2 separate regions of the Homo sapiens genome follow, and region 1 is linked to region 2. The links come from fine-mapping of genetic effects on gene expression. A gene starts in region 2. The other region holds a variant in brackets. All regions are shown on one strand. Distances are between the middles of the regions.

Region 1 (2,914 bases), 120 kb after region 2:
ATTGTGTATCTTCTTTTATTAAATTTATGTGGGGTTTTTTTGCTCATTTCTTTTCTCTCTCTCGCTCTGTGTGTTTGTTTTTTGAGATTAGATCTCACATGTCACCCAGGCTGAAGTGCAGTGGCACAATCTCAGCTTGCTGTAACCTCCACATCCCAGGCTTAAGTGATCCTCCTATCTCAGCCTCCAGAGTAGCTGGAACTACAGTCATGCACCACAATCCTTAGCTAATTTTAAAATTTTTTATGAAGATGAGGTCTCATTACATTGCCCAGGCAGGTGATTTCTTAAAATTCTTTTGTAGAGGGGGGAATCTCTCTATGTTGCCCAGACTGGTCTTGAATTCTTGGCTTCAAGCACTCCTTTTTTCCCCATTTTTAGTTGTGTTGTTTATCTTTGGATTTGTGATTTGTAGGAATTCTTTATTTTTATATACTTATTCTTAGCCACTGGTCTCATTAGTTTCAATAGTTCTTCACTTGGTTATATTGGATTTCCAGCTAAGCAATTATATGCTCTTTGAAAAATTATATATTTGCTTCTCTTTTGCTGTAATTTTACCTTTTACGTGTTTTATTATTTTATGGCATAAGCTGGAACCTCCCAAACTGTTGAGTAATTGTGGTGACAGCCGATACTGATCCTGAATATAATGATAATGTTATTAGTGTTACAGTATTAGGTTTTATATTTATTTTTATTAGGAATGGATGCTAAATATTCCCCAATATTTTTCTATTGAGATGTTTGCATAATTTTTCTCCTTCAGTTCATTAATATGATTTATTATATTCCTAGTTTACTAATTTTGAAATATCCATGCCTCTGGGATAAATCCTACTTGGCCGACGTGTATTCTTAATACTGATAGATTTTATTCATTAATACATTATATAGTATTTTAAAATTATATTCACATAAGAATTGACCTATAGTTTTGTTTGCATCCTTTGTTGTTATTGTTTTGATGGATATGCTTCCTTGTTTTGTGCATCTTTGTCTGATACTGGTTTCAGGGTTATACTAAACTTAATAGAAGAGTTGGAGCATTGTTATTATTTTCTCCTCTGGAATGTATTTTTTAATACATCAGCTACACGTGTTATTTTATCATTCCCATTCCCCTATTTCACCCTTGAGAGATTTTTCCCTACCTCACCTCTCCTCTTCCTATATTGTTATACTGGCATATGTCGAGCTCTGGAGGTTCCTAAGGCTCCCTGTTTTACCTGCTCTGGAAACTGCTCTTGGTTCCCCTGCTGCCAAGCATAGGCTTTGTCTC[T/C]GTTCCAGAGGCCCTGAGTTGTTCAGATTTGTATTTTATTTTGGAATAAGCCCTCATGAACTAAGCTGCAGGGTGTACCTAGGGCAGCAATAAACACAGTTCTACTGGCCCTGAGCCATGTAATAGGTTGAACATATGAAACTCCCCATATCCCACCAGTTTCAACCTACAAAAATGGCAGTTTCACATAACTCAGAATAATGCCTGGACTCCCTCCTCCAGATGTTTGGAAGCACCTGGAGGGTGGGAAAGCCTTAAATTTTCTCTGTTAGAGACCTTGGAAGGAGATGCCTGCAATTGTTGTAATTGGGACACTTCGTTTGGGGGAAAGGCTTCCTGATGAACATGTCCAACATTCTTTTTACATTTTTCTAGATTGTCCTAGAGAGTTCTTTTATTATTATTATTATACTTTAAGTTTTGGGGTACATGTGCAGAACATGCAGGTTTGTTACATAGGTATACATTTGCCATGGTGGTTTCCTGCACCCATCAACCCATCATCTACATTAGGTATTTCTCCCAATGCTATCCCTCCCCTTGCTCCACACCCCCAACAGGCCCTGGTGTGTGATGTTCCCCTCCCTGTGCCCATATGTTCTCATTGTTCAACTCCCACTTATGAGTGAGAATATGCCGTGTTTGGTTTTCTGTTCCTTTGTTAGTTTGCTGAGAATGATGGTTTCCAGCTTCATCCCTGTCCCTGCAAAGGACATGAACTCATTCTTTTTTATGGATATGTGACATTCCATGGTGTATATGTGCCACATTTTCTTTATTCAGTCTATCATTATGGGCATTTGGTTGTTTCCAAGTCTTTGCTATTGTGGATAGTGCTGCAACAAACATACGTGTGCATGTGTCTTTCTAGTAGAATGATTTATAATCCACTGGGTATATACCCAGTAATGGGATTTAAAGATCAAATGGTATTTCTAGTTCTAGATCCTTGAGGAATTGCCACACTGTCTTCCACAATGGTTGAACTAATTTACATTCCCACCAACAGAGTAAAAGCGTTCCTATTTCTCCACATCCTCTCCACCATCTGTTGCTTCCTGACTTTTTAATGATTGCCATTCTAACTGGCACAAGATGGTATCTCATTGTGGTTTTGATTTTCTTTTCTCGAATGACCAATGATGATGCGCTTTTTGCCATATGTTTCTTGGCCACATAAATGTCTTCTTTTGAGAAGTGTCTGTTCATATCCTTCACCCACTTTTCGATGGGGTTGATTGTTTTTTTCTTGTAAATTTGTTTAAGTTCCTTGTAGATTCTGGATATTAGCCCTTTGTCAGATGGATAGATTGCAAAAATTTTCTCCCATTCTGTAGGTTGCCTGTTCACTCTGATGATAGTTTCTTTCCCTGTGCAGAATCTCTTTAGTTTAATTAGATTTGATTTGTCAAGTTTAGCTTTTGTTGCCATTGCTTTCGGTGTTTTAGTCATGAAGTCTTTGCCCATGCCTATGTCCTGAATTATTGCCTAGGTTTCCTTTTAGGGTTTTTATGGTTTTAGGTCTTACGTTTAAGTCTTTAATCCATCTTGAGTTAATTTTTGTATAAGGTGTAAGGAAGGGGTCCAGTCTCAGTTTTCTGCATATGGCTAGCCAGTTTTGCCAACACCATT
Region 2 (2,914 bases):
TTTCAGTTCCTCTCTGACATGATGGCATTAGGGTAATATTTCCATGTGCTTCAACACACATACCTTCTCACCATTACTATATGTCCCCCCCGCCACCCCCCCCCAGCATCACACTATCTCTGGTGTCACCTTCTCTGTTCATGGCCTTTTTCTTCTTCTCTAGGGGTTCCCCCCTTTGAAGAAACAGCATCTGCTCAACCTCCCCTACAGGCTCCCTTAAAGCTGGTTTCTCCTCCCTCTGTTTGTCTCTTTGCAACTCTCTGGAGGCATCTTTACCTTTACAACTTTGCATTTTCTCTGCTATTCCCATGTAAGTTCCCTGAAACCCTAGTACCATTCACAGCAGGATTTCAAAGGTTGCCTGTTGCGTGAGCATTCTATAGGATCCCAAATTATCTTTCTGTGCAAATATGAATTGTTGTGATATGTCCGTAGAGACGGCACAACCTCATGGCTAAGAATGATAGTTACCAGTTCTAGAGATCCTACTCTAATTGCTCTAGAGTGGGGGCCTGAACACCAGTATTACAAAAAAGACAAAAGAAAAAGAAGGAAAAAAGAAAAAAGAAAGAGAGAAAATCAAAGCTACCTTCATCATGTATGAATTTGAGCAAGTAACACCTTTGTGAGTCCCCAGGCCCCAGTTTCTCATTGGTAAAATGAGGATAACAATTACACAGACCTTGTTGGGCTATGTACAGAATTAAATGAGATTATGTACCTAAAAGGCTTGTGGCACAGTGACACACACACACACACACACACACACACACACACCCAGAGTACTTCGTGGTTATTTCTAGGCTTTACTGCTTGAAAGGCTGAAAAGATGGGTGGATGAGAGGTGCCCTGAGGTTCCTTCCAACTCTCCAAGATTCTGTGATACTCCTCCTTGGGTGCTGAAGACACTTTGGCAATGTTTGGATTTCCAAACGGTTGCTTAGAAAACTAAGGGACCCACGAAGCCCAGGTAAGCCTCAGGGTCTTTCCCAGGAATCGTTTATTTATTTGATCTTAGTTCTGACCTAGAGCCTCCACCTTCTCCATCCAAATCACCACAGTGGTCGAAAAGGGCCTGTGCTTGGGAAATCCTTCCTTTGTTGGCGAATCTTGGACCCAAACCCTGCATTTGGGCATCTGACACCCATAGGCCCATGGTTCAAACCCAGGCGGCTCTTTCCAAGTTCGAAGCAGGGACTCGGTTCTGCGCATCTGGCGGGTGTGCCCAGATTGTAACCTTCGCACTAGGCATCCAAGAACGTGCTTTGGACACACTCGGCGGTGGGAGCGGGTGCTTGGTTTGCATCAGGGATGAGGGGTGGAGTAGCGAAAGCGCCCGGAGCGCGCACTCACTCACACTCCCCAAGCCAGGGCGCGGCCGCTCTGGGCGCGAGGTCCCAAGCCAAGTCTCGCGCTCGGCCAGGAGCCGGGGAGTACCCCAGGTCCCCGGTCTGGGGCCGCCGCTATCCTACCCTGCGGCGCGCACTCCTGACCTGGCCCCGCCCCCCGGCGGCCGCGAGTAGCGGGCGGAGCGCAAGCAGAGAGGCGCTCTGGGCTGTGCGGCACCGCCTCTCCTCGGTGTCTGGGGAGGGACGGAGGGACCGGGCGGGAGAGAGAGAAAGCCTGACCGACCGGCTGGCGAAGAGCTGCATGCAACCGGTGGGAGGCCGGGCCGGCTGGGTCTGGGGCTCGGGCTCAGGCTCGCACCGTTTCTCGGCAGGTCCCTGGCGGTGAGCGCGGACGGCCCGGAGGCGGCGGCTCTGAGCTGGCAGGCGGAGGGCTGTCTCCTGCGCCCGCCTGCCCGGCGCGGTCCGAGGATGCGGGGGGGCGATGCCCGGGGCCAGGGACGCGCTCTGTCACCAGGCGCTGCAGCTGCTGGCCGAGCTCTGTGCCCGTGGGGCCCTGGAGCACGACAGCTGCCAGGATTTCATTTACCACCTGCGGGACCGTGCCAGACCCCGGCTCCGCGACCCAGGTGAGTGCCGCCACCGCCGCCTGGAGGGACCTAAGGGCCCTGGGCTGGGACTTGGGGCCGCACCGGGGCCTGAGGCAGAACAGCGACGCGGACTGGGAGAGGGCGGGGGGCGGCCACCGAGCCAGGAGAGTGATCAAGAACCAGCGCACTGTGGCCTGATGCTGTAACCAGGCGGGGACCCGGGCGGTGGCTACTGCACGGAGGCCGACTCCGGGTCGGCTAGGGCAGGGTTGGAGGGACCACGCCCGCCACCTGCGCTCCCATCGCCAAGGCTCCTGGGGGCGGCTCCCTAGCTCCGAGCTACGCTCTCCACTTCCCGGGCTATCTGCACTCAGAGCGAGGGGAGGCCGCGGCGGCCTCGGAGCCGTGGGAAGGGGGACGAGGCCGAAGGAAACTCTGGGAAGTTGGGAGTTGGGGACGGCCCCGGGTTGGGGCCGAATCCCACCGGGTGCTGCTCATCCTTTCTCCCAAGCGTCTAGTTCCTTTCCTTGGTATGGGGTGAGAAGGGCGGGACGCGATCCGGCGTTGGGCCGGGGACAGGGTGCTTCTGGCCTTGGGCAGACGGGCCTGAACCCGTTCCCGGCGGGTCGCACGGCATGGAGGTGGCCTGGGCCTGGGCGCTAGGCTCGACCAGCGACTACCGCCGGCCACGATGGGGTTCGTAGACTCGTCGGTCCTGGCTTGTGCACCTGTAGTTACTCCTAGTGAAAGTTGCAAAGCTCTTAACTTTGGAAAGTTCATTTATTTTGGCATTTGACCAATTAAGGTTGGAGGAGGGAGTTTTAGTGGAGCCATTTGCTTTTCCTGAGGTCCCTGGGTCTCCCAGGTCGTCTCATCCGTTACTGGCTACTGGAAAATGCATTCCTTCCAATGTTTGCTTGAGATGTTTCTCACCTGGAGAAATAGTTTTCTCGAATATTCTCCCAACCTAAGTACTTA

Which allele goes with the higher level. Alleles are on the strand shown, and positions count from the first base shown. SD is a standard deviation of normalised expression in the study named.
In carriers of allele T in region 1, the expression in cerebellar hemisphere of the gene that starts at base 1,548 in region 2 tends to be lower than with C alone (small effect, 0.19 SD a copy in GTEx).

The links.
Region 1: its variant is fine-mapped to the expression of SYT9 in cerebellar hemisphere (GTEx, PIP above 0.99). The same link has a PIP of 0.9 or more in cerebellum.

What each region holds. Positions count from the first base shown.
Region 1 is chr11:7,372,249-7,375,162 of GRCh38, forward strand. The region is part of intron 3 of SYT9 (synaptotagmin 9); the gene reads left to right. Among named protein-coding and RNA genes, the nearest start is that of SYT9-AS1, 92 kb to the right of the region's middle. The variant T/C (reference allele first, on the strand shown) is at 1,283.
Region 2 is chr11:7,250,357-7,253,270 of GRCh38, forward strand. It overlaps SYT9 (synaptotagmin 9), which reads left to right and starts at 1,548. Exons shown (of 7, transcript NM_175733.4): 1 at 1,548-1,975. The coding sequence starts at 1,831. RefSeq lists a silencer at 1,441-1,580.